2 separate regions of the Homo sapiens genome follow, and region 1 is linked to region 2. Evidence: fine-mapped expression QTL. Tissue or cell type: whole blood. Region 2 holds a variant in brackets; the other region holds the start of a gene. All regions are shown on one strand. Distances are from middle to middle.

Region 1 (8,100 bases), 34 kb after region 2:
AATACAGGGGGCAGGGACTTAGGCAATGACCTAGGAAGAGAAAATGGCATCAAACACTAGGCAGTCTGGCTGGTTCTACTTGTAACAACTACTTGTAACCAGAAGTTGCTACAGGCAATGGCAGGATCCAGTCCTCCCGCCCATGCAGTCACCTTACAGAAAGCTGGGTCACTCTGGAGCGAAGCCTCAGCATCCTTCAGGGATCTCTCCAAGTCTCCCATCTTCAGGAAGCACTTTGAGCGAGCAACCAGGCAGTTCTTGTCTCCATCCTGAAGGTAAAGAGCCTGACAAAGAAACCAGTCAGGTTGACAGCCAGCATGAAGAGCAAGGTAGAAGCTGGAGTGGGAAGGGCAGCCCAAACCCTCCTGCAGAGGGGATTTCTTCAGGCTCTGAAGAAATCAAGGCTCTGAAGAATCAAGGGGATTCTTCAGGCCAGCACACAGGCCTCTGGCTCCTAAGCAGAACAACTCCGATCTGCGCTCAGTCAACTTGATTATCTGCATATGGCTCACCTTGAACAAGGTCAAATCATGGCTATTGTGGAAGCCACTGGCTGAAGAGTAGGAATATGCTGCTCTGTGGATACGCTGACTTTCCACCAATGTCTGAGAGCCCCTCAGTCCCCTCAGGCAATAGAACTGTAGGGTATTTTGTGCACACCAAACTCAACTACAAACCTGAAATGGCAACACATCATACTCAAAGCAAATTTCAAAGGCTAAGCATTCTGAAGTGGACTTGAGGACAATCTGCCATGTGGCTTAACCATTCCAGTAGCCTTCTCTTTTTATGTAGCTAATCAAGAACTAATCACTATATCCGGGGATTAAGATGAAAATACCAGGAAAAGGCTGGGAGTGGTGGCTCACACCTGTAATCCCAGCACTTTGGCAGGTCGAGGTGGGCGGAACGCTTGAGCCCAAGAGTTTGAGACCAGCCTGGGCAACATGGCAAAACCCTGTCTCTACGAAATACAAAAAAATTAGCTGGGCGTGGTGGTCCATGATTGTAGTCCCAGCTACTCAGGAGGCTGAGATGGGAGGATTGCTTGAACCTGGAGAGGTCGAGGCTGCATAAGCCATGATCACACCACTGCACTCCAGCCTGGGTGACAGAATGAGACTCTGTCTCAAAAAACAAAACAAAACAAAACAAAAAGAGGCCGGGTGCAGTGGCTCACACCTGTAATCCCAGAACTTTGGGAGACCAAGGTGGGTGGGTCACTTGAAGTCAGGAGTTTGAGACCAGCCTGGCCAACGTGGTGAAACCCATTTCTACTAAAAATACAAAAATTAGCCAGACATGGTGGTAAGCACCTGTAATCCCAGCTACTCGGGAGTCTAAGGCAAGAAAATCGCTTGAACCTGGGAGGCAGAGGTTGCAGTGAACTGAGATCATGCCACTGCACTCCAGCCTGGGTGATGGAGTGAGACGCTGTCTCAAAAAAAAAAAAAAAAAAAAAGAAAGAAAGAAAAAAGAAAGAAAGGGAAAAGAAAAATGAAAAACAAGAAAGAAAAAAAAAAAAGAAAATGCTAGGAAAATGAAACTGATTTTGACCCTAAAGTGGGGTTGAGGGCAATATCCCCACTCCCAGTGTCCTCTTTTCTGTGTGAGATGATTACCATAGTCTGTGGTGTACTGTCCTTCCTGAGGCATCTAACTGTACCCACCCCCCTTTTTCTTTTTTGAGACAGAGTCTCACACTGTCACCCAGGCTGGAGTGCAGTGGCACGATCTCTGCTCACTGCAATCTCCGAGTCCCGGGTTGAAGCAATTCTCCTGCTTCAGCCTCCCGAGTACCTGGGACTACGGGTGCCCGCCACCACACCTGGCTAATTTTTTTTTTTTGAGATGGCGTTTTGCTCTTGTTGCCAAAGCTGGAGTGCAATGGCACGATCTCGGCTCACTGCAACCTCCGCCTCCCGGGTTCAAGCAATTCTCCTGCCTCAGCCTCCGGAGTAGCTGGGATTACAGGCACTCGCCACCACGTCCGGTTGATTTTTTGTATTTTTAGTAGAAACAGGGTTTCACCATGTTAGCCAGGCTGGTCTCAAACACCTGACCTCAGGTGATCCACCTGCCTTGGCCTCCCAAAGTGCTGGGATTACAGGCATGAGCCACCTGACCTGGTCTTTTTTTTTTTTTTTTTTGAGACAGAGTTTCACTCTTGTTGCCCAGGCTAGAGTGCAATGGCATGATCTTGGCTCACTGCAACCCTCTGTCTCCTGGTACCCACCCCTTTCTAAGACCTTCCTACTTTTCTAAGAAGAGGAAGTAGCTACTGTCTTTCTGGAAAGTGACTGCTTCTCATCCAAGGCTACCCTTCCCTCAGGGTGTTCTTTTTTCTCTGCTGGTGGGTACTTCAGGATGGGACATGATCCAGCAGGAGGAGAATAAGTGGGGACAGGGCTACCGAACTCAATTGTTCACTTATCTGGTCATCATTTCTGGTTTTAGGGTGTGGTTGGTGACTGAAAGGGACAAACGACTCTGGGGAGCTGTTGAGAAGCTTGATCTTACAGGAAGTCTCAAAACTACAGGGTTATCCTATCACTCCATCTAGAAGAAGAAGTGGGCAATTTGGAGCAGAAGAAGTGGGCAATTTGGAGCAAAAGAAATGGTCATAAAAACATGTTTTTAGGGCACTGTATCTCATACCTGTAATCCTAGCACTTTGTGAGGCCAAAGCGGGAGTATTACTTGAGCTCAAGTGTTCAATACCAGCCAGGGCAACATAGCAAAACACCTATCTCTACAAAAAAAAAAAAAAAAAAGAAGAAAAGAAAAAATTAGCCAGGCGTGGTGGCATAAGCCTGTAGCTCCAGCTACTTGGAACACTAAGGTGGGAGGATCACTTGAGCTCAGGAGTTTGAAGCTGTATTGAGCTGTGATTGTGCCACCACATTCCAGCTTGGGAGACAGAACGAGATCCTGTCTCTGAAAAAACAAACAAACAAAAAAAAAACAACAGTTTCCTTATGCAGATGTCAGATGTGTAGTTTTGTGGTTAGCACCTCAGCATTGGAGTCTGAGCCCGGCTTTGAATCCTTCCTCTGCCACTTGCTAGTTTAGCGACCTTGGGCATGTTGCTCAACTTCTGTATATTTCCTAATCTATAAAATTGAGTATGCACTGGGTGGGGTGGTTCACGCCTGTAATCCCAGCACTTTGGGAGGCTGAGGTGGGGGGGGATCACCTGAGGTGGGGAGTTCGAGATCAACCTGACCAACATGGAGAAACCCCGTCTCTACTAAAAATACAAAATTAGCCGAGCATGGTGGTGCATGCCTGGGATCCCAGCTACTCGGGAGGCTGAGGCAGGAGAATCGCTTGAACCTGGGAGGTGGAGGTTGGGGTGAGCCGAGATTGCGCCACTGCACTCCAGCCTGGGCAAGAAGAGCAAAACTCCATCTTAACAACAACAAAAATCCAGTCTGCTTAGCAGTGTGCCTGAGGCTGAGGCAGGAGAATCACTTGAATCCAGGAGGTGGAGGTTGCAGTGAGCCAAGATCGCACCATTGCACTCCAGCCTGGAGACAGAGCAAGACTACGTCTCCAAAACAACAACAACAACAACAACAACAACAACAAAAACCATCACCCAATCCCCTTAGGGTGGGATGATGCAATTTATACTAGGGTTACTATAATAATGTTGCTGGTTGGTGCAGCAGCTCACCTCAGTAATCCCAGCACTTTGGGGGGCCGAGGCAGGTGTATCACTTGAGGTCAGGAGTTCGACACCAGCCTGGCCAACATGGTGAAACCCTGTCTCTACTAAGAATACAAAAATTAGCCAGGCGTGGTGGGACATGCCTGTAATCCCAACTACTCCCTAGGCTGAGGCAGGAAAATCGCTTGAACCTGGGGAGGCGGAAGTTGCAGTGAGCTGAGATCTTGCCACTGCACTCCAGCCTGGGCAACATAGCAAAACTTTGTCTCAAAATTGATAATAATAATCATATGTTGCTTACTGGCCACCTTTTATAAGCAACGGTGTGCTGGGGACATTGAGGCTTCTGCATGCAACCTCCCATCCAATCTGCCAGCAAATGATGGGAAGGTAAGGCTGCTCTGTGGAAGGAGGCCGGTTAATCATGAAACATTTAAGTAAAAGTGGAGGAAAAGGTCACTGTTAACGCAGAGAATGGAGATTGCAAGTGGGAACTGGTAGAAAATGGCCAACCACAGGGCTTATCTGTGACAGCAGTGTGTCCATCAAAAATCAGTGAATAATAGAAACAACAGGGTCCTCCAGGCATCATCAAGACCTCAGTGTTATCTGCAATCAAAAGGTGAGGGCAGGGGGCAGGCGCAGTGGCTCACGCCTGTAATCCCAGCACTTTGGGAGGCCGAAGCGGGTGGATCACGAGGTCAGGAGTTCGAGACCAGCCTGGCCAACACAGTGAAACCCCCATCTCTACTAAAAAGACAAAATAATTAGCCGGGCATGGTGGCACGCGCCTGTAGTCCCAGCTACTTGGGAGGTGGAGGCAGGAGAATCACTTGAACCCGGGAGGCGGAGGTTGCGGCGAGCCGAGATCGTGCCATTGCACTCCAGCCTAGGCAACAAGAGCGAAACTCCGTCACAAAAAAAAAAAAAAAAAAAAAAAAAAAAAGTGACGGGTGATGGGGTGATGGATAGGTTGAGAGCTCGACTCACGTTGCTGAAGCTCTGCGCGGCTTTAGAAAATTCCCCGCACAGGTAGAGCCGCTCGCCTTCGGCCATATAAGAGGGAAAGGTGCTTCGCAAGGTCTCGCCTTCGGGGTCCGACATGGTGACCGGATTTAGAGACGCTAAAGCAGAGACAATCAAAGAAAAGCTGGAGAACCTCTATCTGGTTTGTGGAAGCTCCGTTTCTTAGCAACCATGAGATGTACAGCGACTTCCGGTTCCGCCCCCGTCTGGCAAGGGCCCGGATTCTGGGTACAACCTGCCGGCGTGCGCTTGCGCCAGTTCTGCCGCGCACTGGGCCAGGGAGTGATGATTGCGTGGCTGACGGCTGGGCTGGTTAGTGTTTGCTGTTGCACGCTCTGGCGGTTCTCTCTGGAGTTGCTGCCTGAAAAGGCTCCCTTGTAAGACAGCCAAGAAAACAGGAAGAGGGTTGGAGGCAAAGTTCCGAATAGGGATGAGGCATACGTGGTAAGGATATGTGCACGGCGTACCGCCATTAGGGGGAGAGAGCACTGGGCTTGGAGTCAGCAGACTTGGGCTGACTTCGCTCCTGTCACTTCCTAACTGCGTGACCTCTCGCGGGGCATGTAAGGGCTCCCAGCCTCGAATGTTCCACCTGCCAAATAAATATGAAAATAATGGAACACTCAGGGATGCGAGGATTTGCATAAGAAAACATGGAAAATAACGTTGGGTTCAACATAATTTAACGCAGTTATTTGAGCAGCTACTAGTAGCGGGCCTTGACCAAGGCATATTCTGACGTCCTTCCCCATTCCCTCACCATCACCACTCCTCCAAAAGTGGACTAGGTGCTTCTTCTGGGCTCCAACGATACCCTAAGTAGCTTGCTTAACTGCCTTTACTACGTTACTTCCAAAACGTCCTAATGTCATTGTTAAAGTTTAAATAGTAAAAAGATGTCTTTAACTACAAATGCACACACACACACACACACACGGCATACATGTAAAACTGGGGATATTTGAGTAAGATCAGTGGATTGTATCAGTGTCAATTTTCTGGTTGTGTTATTGTACTAAAGTTTTTAAGGATGTTACCATTGGGAGAAACTGGGAAAAGGGTACATGGGATCTCTTTTGTATTTATTTCTTATGAACTGCATATGAATCTATGATTATCTCAAAAGGTTTAATTCAAAATATAAGAAATAATATGGTCCCTGCTTGAAGGAGTTTTATCTAATAGGGGAGAAAGATGTATAAACAAGTAACGGCCACTTAAGTGATATTAACTAGTAATTAAAAGTTCTGTGTGCCTGTGAGGGAGATGAGGACAAAGTGGTGTGAAACCCAGGCAAATGAATGATTCAGCCAGGGTCTGGGATGGGTTAGAGACATGTTCATAGAGGGGTAATATTTGAGCTGAGGGTGAGTATGGTGGAGCCCAGTAGACGTAAGTAGAGAATGAGAGCTAGGTGTGGTGGCTCATGCCTGTAATCCCAGTACTTTGGAGACTGAGGTGGGAGGATCGCTTGAGCTCAGGAGTTCGAGACCAGTCTGGGCAACATGGCGAAGCCCTGTCTCTACCACAAATACAAAAGTGAGCTGGGTGTGGTGGCGTGTGCCTGTAGTCCCAGCTACTCAGGAAGCTGAGGCAGGAGGATCACTTGAGCGTGGGAGGTCGAGGCTGCAGTGAGCCATGTTTGGGCCACTGCATTGTAGCCTGTGTAACAAAGCAAGACCCTGTCTCAAAAAAAAAAAAAAAAAAGGAAATAACATGTGCAAAGGCTGGAGGTGTGTACATTCACAGGGTGTTTAAGGAGCAGCAACAGGTTTAAGGACCTGCAGTGAAACTGGTCCTGTTCTAAGTTAAGGTGGGCTCATTGATGAGTTGAGGACTGTTGCTGGAGCAACCAGGATTAATCAGAAAAAAACCTCCTGCAAGGAAGAGATCTACAGATTCAGTGCAGTTCCAATCAGAACTCCAGCAGCTTTTTTTTTTTTTTTTTTATGGTGGAGTCTCACTCTGTCACTCAGGCTGGAGTGCAGTGATGTGATCTCGGCTCACTGCAATCTCCGCCTCCCGGTTTCAAGCTAGTCTCCTGCCTTAGCCTCCTGAGTAGCTGGGATTACAGGTGCACACCACCATGCCCAGCTAATTTTTTGTATTTTTAGTAGAGATGAGGTTTCACCATGTTGGCCAGGCTGGTCTTGAACTCCTGACCTCAGGTGATCTGCCCGCCTCAGCCTCTCAAAGTGCTGGGATTACAGGCATGAGCCACTGTGCCTGGCCCCAGCAGCCTTTTTTTTTTTTCAGTAATTAACAAGCTGATTTTAAGATTTATGTGGAAATGCAAAAGACCTAAAATAGCCAAAACCATTTTGAAAAAGAAGAACAAAAGAGAACTTAAATTCTGTGATTTCAAGACTTATTTTAAAGCTACGGTAATGGTATTAGCATAAATATGTAAATATATATGGATTAATGGAACAGAAATAGATCCACACATATATGATCAATTGATGTTCAATGAAGTTGCCAAAGAGATTCAATGGAGAAAGGATACTCTTTTCCACAAATGTGTGCTGAAGCAATTGGATAGCCATATGGAAAGACAAAATCCAAAATAAAAAACCTTGATCCTTACCTCACACTATATACAAAAATCAACTGGAAATATTTTAATGTAAATATGTATTTAATTAATTTTTATTTTTATTTTTTGAGAGAGAGTTGGCCTTGTCCACCAGGCTGGAGTGCAGTAGTGAGATCTTGACTCACTGCAACCTCTGCTTTCTGGGCTCAGGCCACCCTCCCACCTCAGCCTCCTGAGTAGCTGGGACTACAGACACGCACCACCACACCCAGCTGATTTTTGTGTTGTTTTGGTAGAGACAGGGTTTTGCCATGTTGCCCAGGCTGGTTTTGAACTCCTGAACTCAAGCAATCCTCCCACCGCGGCCTCTCAAAGTGCCAGGCTTACAGATGTGAGCCACCATGCCTGTCTAAATATAAATATTGAGTTTTTTTTTTTTTGAGATGGAGTCTCACTCTGTCACCCAGGCTGGAGTGCAGTGGCGTGATCTCAGCTCACTGCCACCTCTGCCTCCCAGGTTCAAGTGATTCTTCTGCCTCCGCCTCCCAAGTAGCAGGGACTACAGGTGTGCACCACCATGCCCGGCTAATTTTCATATTTTTGGTAGAGACAGGGTTTCACTGTGTTAGCCAGGCTAATCTCGAACTTCTGACCTCAGGTAATCCACCCACCTTAGCCTCCCAAAGTGCTGTGATTACAGGCATGAGCCACTGCGCCTAGTCTAAACCTTGATCCTTACCTCATACCATATACAAAAATTAACTAGAAATATTTAAATGTGGCCGGGTGTGGTAGCTCACACCTGTAATCCCAGCACTTTGGGAGGCCCAGGCGGGCAGATCAAGACCATCCTGGCTAACACGGT
Region 2 (8,100 bases):
GGTGCGGTGGTGGCTCACGCCTGTAATCCCAGCACTTTGGGAGGCCAAGGCAAGCGGATCACCTGAGGTCAGGAGTTCAATACCAGCCTGGCCAACATTGTGAAACTCCGTCTCTACTAAAAATACAAAAATTAGCTGGACGTGGTGGTGCACACCTGTAGTCCTAGCTACTCGAGAGGCTGAGGCAGGAGAATTGCTTGAATCTGGGAGGCAGAGGTTGCACTGAGCTGAGATAGCGCCACTGCACTCCAGCCTGGGCAACAGAGGGAGACTCCGTGTCACAATAAATAAATAAATAAAATTGGAGGCAACCAGAAATGGCCTAAAGGCATATAGATGGATTAGTGGGTGGCACTTCTCCAACAGGTCACTCCAGGAGAGCCACCAGGACCCTTCTTTATCTCAAACCTATCATTGGAGCAAAAAGCCCATGCCAAGAGAGAACCCTGCTAGAGTGGCCAGAGTCCAGGGTTCCAGCCCGTAAACCCCACATCCCTCCTGGGTCCATGTTTTTCCATCTGAAAACGGGTTTTGGCCTAAGTGTGAGACTTGTGTCCTCTGGAGCTGCAGATGCCACAAACCCATGAGTAAATTGAGCAGTCCGAGGCCTGAGAACCATCCCCAGTGAAGCCACAATAGTCCTAGTTTTAATTTTTTTGCAGCTTACAATTTCATGTGATTATTATTATTATTTTTTGGAACATGATTCTGCTGCTAAAAATGCGTTGGAAAACACTGGGCTTGATTCCCCCTCTAAGGTTACATTAGAAGAGGACATGTTTCCTGTTACTACAGTAATTTGTTTTTCCCACCTCCAAGACAAGGGACAGTGGTCTACATTCAGGCTGGGAAAAGGGTGTCGGAGAGAAGAGGGCTAGAAGGATAGGTGTGGTGGGAGGAAAGGCGCTCTGGGAAGCCCCCGTGTTCCCAATGTGCTGCCAACTCCCCAAGGCTACCACTGGGACGCACCGCTTGCCCCTGCCCCCGCTGAGGTGAGCCTCTCTCTGCCTCCTGCTGCTTCGTGCTCCATCCTTTGAGTACAATGATGGTCCTTTGCCCGCAGCACCCTGTGCCCAGCAAGGTGGGCTTATAAGGCCCCAACCTGCCACCTACATTGTCGCAGCTCCTTCTTGAAGGCCTTGTGGTTCCCCAGCTCTTCCAGGAAGACCTGGCCGGCTTTGCGGAGGGTCTCAGAGCTCTTCTTGGTCAGGAACCAGCCGAAGTAGAGCGGCAGGAAGTCCTTCTCCAGCCCAGGCTTCAGCTTCTTCAGGTCATCAGCCGACAGCTGCCACTGGTTCTTCTCCTTGAGCTGGGCACAGTCCAGCCGCCACGCCGTCTTGGGCTCCACCAGCACCACCTGGTACTGGTACTGGTCGGCCATTTCAAAGAGCTGCTCCAGCCGTTCCCGTTCGTGGTTGGTGTCATCAAGCACAAGAATTCTGATGTCCCGGCGGCGGCAGTAGGCAGCCAGGTCCTCATCGAGCCGCTTGTACTCCTCGGAGAAGGCTCCTCGAGCGCCGGGGGTGATCTTGTAAGCGTCAGCCGACACCATCTTGGTGCCATCACGGTACTTGTCCACGATGACCCGTGCCAGCGTGGACTTGCCGCTTCCTGGCAGGCCGCGCAAGATGAAGAGCGTCTTGCACTCTAGCAGCGTGGCCACTGTGTCCTCATCCTGAAGGAAGGGAAACTGCAGCTCAGGCTTGTCCTTGGCCCCTGAGGATGACATCTTGCGGAAGAAGATCTTGGGCAGGAATGTGTGGCTTTTTCGGGAGAAGCCTCTGTTCTGTGTAAGGAGGGGAAGAGATGTCAGCCCAGGTCATTCGCGGGCTCCCCGCCGGCCTTACCCCTAGTCCCTAGACTGGTTGTGGGTGCCTTCCCAAGCGGGGCAGTGCTGGACCTTCTTTCCCTTTCGGTCCGGGAGCACCTTTCCGCTTCTGGTCGTGGAGGAGGAAGAGGGAAGCTTGTCTGAAGCTCTCCTAAGCGTGCGCTTTCCCCATTCCTGCCACTTCGGAAAGGTAAACGTGCTGGAGGCATGCGGGGCGCGCCAGGAGCCTGCGGTTCTGGGACTGGCCTCACTCTTATATGCTTGGCACCTACTAAGGACGTCCTCTTTGGAGGTGGGGGTCTCTGTGTCTGGGCCAAGCCACAGCTGCCACGGCTGAGTGCACAGAGAAGGGGGGGAGTGGAGAAGGGTTACCCCAAGACTGCCTCCCTTCCCCCAACAATGGCCGCAACAGATAATACTCTCTTGTCTGGCATGCGGGTACAATGGTCCCACAGAAGGGCTGGTGGGGGGCAGGGCAGGAGAGCACTGGACAAAGGCCCTCTTTCACCAAGCCTGCCACCTCCTCCTCTACCCTCTCCCGGCCCCCACAAAGTCGTGGTCTTTGTGCCTGTCCAGAACAGGGCAGCACAGGGCACCTGCAATTAGGATCCAGCTCTACCCGCCGCTGTGCTGTGTGTCAGAAGCGCCTCTCGGAGCCACTTGTTTTCCTATCTTCTAGAAGCCACAAGGGACGGCAGCTTTTACCGTAAAGGGTCCCCTCCTCTGAACTGGCTCCACCTCCCGCCCGCACCCGGGCGCGGGGCAGCGGTTCCGCGTGATGAGACTGGGCCCGGGGAGGGGGCGCCGAAGCGGCTGCCCCAGCGCGGGCCTGCGTGGGGTCGGGAGCAGCTCCCGGGCTCCCGGCCCAGGCCCACCCAGGCTCCCAGAGGCGCAGCAGCTTCTGCGGTCCCGAGTTCCCTCCTGAGAAACACCACCGTTTCCCTTTACAGCGGCCTCTCCGGCACCCCAAAACCCCTCCGCTTCTCCCAGACCTCAGGGCCGCCCTGAGTACCAAGAAAACTGGAAGTCGAACCCGGAGCCCCGGGTCCTCGTTTGCAAGACGCTTCCTCCCGAGGGGCCCCGACACTCGTTTCCCGCCCTGGTGCTACCCCGTGCCCGGCCCCGCCCGGCCTCTCACCATGATGAGGAGGGGCGCCACCGTCGCCGCCTCTGCCGGCACCAGCGCTCCGGGGCCGCCCGCCTGCGCGGAGGGACACGGGAGTCCAGCGGTGGCACGACCCGAGCCCGGCCGCTTTACATAGCCCGGGGGGCGGAGCGGGCACCCGGGCGGGCTGGGGGCGGGCCGTCTCCTCTGCGCGCAGGCGCTGCGAACCAAAACCCGAAACTCTCGCCGCGCGCGGGAACCTCGGCCCGGTCCCGCCCCCTGCGCGCGCCTGCTCCCCACGCGCACCCACCCACTGCGCCTGCGAGCTGAGCGGCCACTAGCTTTTTCTGCGTGTTGAGGGGTAACTCAGTCACCCTCCCCGGTCCCGTGGATTAGCAGGAAGTGAGTGAGGCAGGGTCGTGCAAAGTCGGATCCTGTCTTTAATTTTTGATATTTTATTCATCATGGACTTTTGCATTAATTAAAAACTTTTTTTTTTACCACATTGGATTAAAATATTATCATGCAATTTGCTGGCATTCCGGTAAACTCTGCATCTGAAATGCCTCACTGGCCTCATTCGTCCAGGCCCTGTGCCAGCCGAAAGTCAGTCTCAGCCCCGACCTTTCCTTCTAGGAGCTGTGGAGACAGACCAGGATGGCAATGGCCAAAGGGACAGATGAGTAACGGAGTGAAATCCTAACATCCTCTGAGGCCAGATCCTCAGCTGCCACCTCCTCTGTGAAACCACTGAGAGCTCCGTTGGATTTTTGAGTTTCCTGTCCAAGTGCTGTGCTAAGCACTCAGTCCTCGCAGCAACCCCTGAGGCAGGTATCCCATTGTTCAGAGGAGAAGCCAGCTTGGAGAGCCTGATTTACCTGATTATGCCACCCAGAGGTGTCAGAGGCGGAGTCTGTCTGCCCTCCCGACTCCCAGGCCACTCCCCTATCTTTGGCCTCACTCCCAGCATTCGCTTGGTTCTGGCTTGCGGCATTCTCCTACCTGTGACAGCTGGGGCCGCCCCACCACTGTTCCATCCATAAAGCCTCCCCGCTGTCCTGCGCACTGGAGGGACTCAGTCAGTCACCGGTGTGTGGGAAGCACCTCTCCTCCCAGGCCTTCCCCTCTCCTCCCTGTGACTTCTTGTTCCCTGTAGCGCCCGTATCTTCACCCTCCTGAAACC[CTT/T]TCTTCTTGGCACCTTTCTCATTTCTTCCACGATGCTCTTCCAAGAATGGGCAGGGGTGAAGAGGCAAAGTGACAGACTCAGGGTTTGCAAGAGTGAAAGACACCTATTTAATGGCAAAATAGTGATGGAAAGCAGCAGAAGTAAAACCCTCATTTTTCCTATAACAGACAAATCGCTTGAAAATCCAGTTTAATAAAATCCCATGATCCCTCTGAACACCAGCTTCCTGATCCTCATCTCTACCGATGGCTTCATTCATATTCCTTTTCCATCTCATTTCCTGTTTTTTTCGTTTCTCCTATTTCTCCAAATTGTGTTTTTCCCAGTTCTTCTGGCTCTCTTCTGCCCACTTCTGAAAGTTTCTTTAGTTCTTCTGGTTCCTGTCTGCTGAATTCTCCTGAGAGTCTTTGCTCTAATTCTCCCGAAGGCCTCCTATAAATTTCTCTTGACTCTCTTCTGCCAGCTTCTAGTAGCTTCCTGCCTGTTTCTCCTGATCTTGTGCCTAATTCTCCTGACAGGCCCTTGGCAACTGCTCCCAAATCGCTTCTGGCTTTTCCTGCTTCCACACTCTGCTTTCCGCTTGCTGGGCTCTGCAGAGCTTCCCCAAAAGCCTCATCGTCCTCATCTGTCTCTTTCTCATCCTCACTATGGTCCCACTGCTTCACCACCTTCTCGGGCTCATCTCTCACTCTCCTCATGTCCTTCTCTCTTGTTATTATTCTATCTTCATACAGTGAAGCTTCTGAAAAATAAGAGAAAAGCGGGAAGAAAGATAAAAGTTTGTTCATGTCAGGCCGGGTGCGGTGGCTCACGCCTGTAATCTCAGCACTTTGGGAGGCTGAGGCAGGCAGATCCCTTGAGGCCAGGAGTTCCAGACCAGCCTGGGCGACACAGTGAGACCCTGTCTGTACTAAAAATACAAAAATTAGCCAGGCGTGGTGGTTGGCGCCTGTAGTCCCAGCTACCCGGAGGCTGAGGCAGAAGAATCGCTTGAGCCCAGGAGGTTGGGGCTGTGATGAGCCAAAATCCAGCCACTGCACTGCAGCCTGGGTGACAGAGCAAGACCCGTCTCCAAAAAAGAAAGAAGAAAAAAAAGAAAGAAACTGTTCATCTCTGTGGAGGCCTGTGCTTTTGAGAGGCCGATGAGAGAAAGGCCCTGAGAATGACTGTTTTTGCCAGCTCTTTAAATTGGTGTTGACAGCACACCTTTCCAAAAGCAGAGAAAGGGAACCATCATTGACTGAGCCCAGCTCCGTCCTGTGCATCACGTGAGGGCTGTATAGCTTATCCCATCCAGACATCATGAAAATGCGCACTGCCGTTGATTTGAGTTTGCAGTCAAGGGACCTGAGATCGATAGAAAAGAAATCACACGGCCGGGCGGCATGGCTCACGCCTGTAATCCCAGCACTTTGGGAGGCCGAGGCAGGTGGATCACCTGAGGTCAGGAGTTTGAGACCAGCCTGGCCAACAAGGTGAAACCCCGTCTCTACTAAAAATACAAAAATAAGCTGGGCATGGTGGCAGGCGCCTGTAATCCCAGCTACTTGGGAGGCTGAGGCAGGAGAATCGCTTGAACCCAGGAGGCGGAGGTTGCAGTGAGCCAAGATTGTGCCATTGTACTCCAGCCTGGGCAACAAGAGCAAAACTCCATCTCAAAAAAAAAAAAAATTAACCGGGAGTGGTGGCACAAGACTGTAGTCCCAGCTACTCAGGAGGCTGAGGCAGGAGAATCACTTGAACCTAGGAGGCGGAGGTTGTAGTGAGCCGAGATCGCGCCACTGCACTCCAGACTGGGTAACAGAGGGGAGACTCCATTTCAAAAAAAAAAAAAGGCACAGTGGCTCATGCCTGTAATCCCAGCACTTTGGGAGGCTGAGATGGAGGTTGCAGTGAGCTGAGATCGCGCCACTGCACTCCAGACTGGGTAACAGAGGGGAGACTCCATTTCAAAAAAAAAAAGGCACAGTGGCTCATGCCTGTAATCCCAGCACTTTGGGAGGCTGAGATGGAGGTTGCAGTGAGCTGAGATTGCACCACTGCATTCCAGCCTGGATGACAGAACAAGACTCCGTTTCAAAAAAAAAAAAAAAGAAAGAAAAGAAATCACACAATGGTCACACTGCAAGTGTGCAAGTGAGACAGAATTTGAACCCAGGACAGTCTGACCCCAGAACACCTCTTTTCCCTGCAAGAAATAGCATAGGTGCTGGAAAATGACAGAAGGATTTTCTCCAGCATCTTCATTCTGACACTTTCTCTTTGTCCCTGGGAAGCACATTCATTATTTGTTGGGAGGTTTCCTATGAAAATATAGAAAAAACATAAGGAAAAAGATAGGTTTCCTATAAAGATATACGCTGCTAACAAAAAGTTCAGCTGAAGAGTTATTTTACAAGCAAAGGGATCCTTGCTCCTAAATTTTTTTTTTTATCAGTTATGGAGAAAAGTTACATCCCCTTCTGCGTCTCCCTTACATTCTCCTCCTGGAAACCACTAGTTACTGAGGTATCTGCAGAGGGTCTCAGGTCTCAGGGGGTCACAGCCCTTTGGTGGTGAAAACAGATGCAATGCTGCCACCTGCTGTTCTGAGAGGGACGTGCCCGGCAGTTCTCCAGGCACAAGGACGCAGGCCAGGGTAGGGAGACTGGGGTGTTGGCTGCTTCCCCGCAGAGTCTCTCTCCACAGCTGTTGCTCCTGTGGCTTCTCAGAGCAGCTCAAAGGGCATGTGGGGGCGGAGACAGAGCCCCTCTGAGGGGGTCCAGCCACCACAGAGCAGGTGCTGGATAATAAAGGGCTGTCATCTGGCTGCTCAGGTGCCCAGAAACCTCCCGCTGCCCTGCCTGGACCAGAAAGGATTTCAGCCTTGCAGCCTGGAGGGCTGCAGCCAAGAATCTGCATTGGGCTCTGTCCTCCCGGACCTCCAGCCCCAGCTCTGTTCACTGCAGTCTGGCTGGAGTGAGAGCTCCACAGACTGGGGCAGGAAAAGGCTGTCTGTGTCACTAGAAACAGTGTGGCACGGGCCGACGCGTGGGTTCTAGAGCAGACTGCCCAAGACTGAAAACCACTGTAGCCTCTAACCCCTCTGCCTCCATGTCCTCCATAAAGTCAAGCTAATAACACTTCCTTCATAGTGTTCCTGAACAGATACAGATAGGATGAGTCCGTGCACACAGTCTTTGAAAGAATGCCTGGCCTGCGGGAAGCATGAATGGGGGTCGGCTACTGCGCTTAACACCCCTGTTCCTCTAGGCCCCTCTCCAGTGGGGTAGGGCTGCTCAGCCATCTTCTGCTTCTCCTTCCCTCACTCCCTCCCTGCAGGAAAGGAGAGCCCAAAGGCAGGGGGCCAAAGGCCTGTTTACTCCCTGGAGACCTTGTGAGAAAGAATGTGGTAAGGCACAGCTGTCAGGCAGCCTCTGCACCTTATGCCCCTCTGCACCTGCCCATCACACTGCTGGCCCGAGAGCAGCGCCGCAGGTGGGGAGAGTGGGGCCCCGAGTCACCCCTCCCTAGCTACATGACTCTGGCAGAGCACTCACCTCACTCAGCCTCCCTTTCCCCCCACAGCACCTACACCTCCTAGTGGGGTAAAGACCCAACAAGATCACTCCTGTCTGGTGCTTAACCCAGTGCCTAGCACACAGTAAGAGCCCCCAAAGTGTAGCTACTGTTATTCTGTCTCTGTGCCTCTGGCCCTGCTGTTCCCTGCTGGAAAAATGCCTTTCTTCTCCCACTTCTCTCCTGGAAAACTCCTGGGCATCTTTTGGAGTTGGAGGTAGAAGATTTTTCCTCGTCGAAGCCTCCTCTGCCTCCCCAGAGGAGCCCACGCCCCGTTGCATGCACCCTCATGGCAGCACACCTCCACCTCGGTGTAGCACCTGTGTGCAGGATCCCAGCAGCTGACAACTCCACTGGTCAGCCTTGCCCAAAGGGCCATGGGCTCCTCCAGGGCAGGGATGGGCCTCTCTCCCCAGAATCTAA

What was found. PIP is the estimated chance that this variant, and not a neighbour inherited with it, causes the effect.
Region 1: it holds the start of ODAD4, and the variant in region 2 is fine-mapped to the expression of ODAD4 in whole blood (TOPMed, PIP above 0.99).

Annotation. Positions count from the first base shown.
Region 1 is chr17:41,927,401-41,935,500 of GRCh38, reverse strand. ODAD4 (outer dynein arm docking complex subunit 4) reads right to left here and starts at 4,884. Exons shown (of 12, transcript NM_031421.5): 1 at 4,664-4,884; 2 at 153-284. The coding sequence starts at 4,777. It also overlaps a transcript of ACLY not described here. RefSeq lists enhancers at 1-58, 4,776-4,875, 5,056-5,145, 4,858-5,761.
Region 2 is chr17:41,961,754-41,969,853 of GRCh38, reverse strand. It overlaps ODAD4 (outer dynein arm docking complex subunit 4), which reads right to left. Exons shown (of 12, transcript NM_031421.5): 12 at 3,351-4,861. The coding sequence ends at 4,371. CNP (2'',3''-cyclic nucleotide 3'' phosphodiesterase) reads right to left here and starts at 3,059. Exons shown (of 4, transcript NM_033133.5): 1 at 2,967-3,059; 2 at 1,114-1,786. The coding sequence starts at 2,969. RefSeq lists enhancers at 912-1,469, 1,470-2,027, 2,028-2,585, 3,687-3,786 and silencers at 2,557-2,746, 2,877-3,316, 6,619-6,768. The variant CTT/T (reference allele first, on the strand shown) is at 4,117.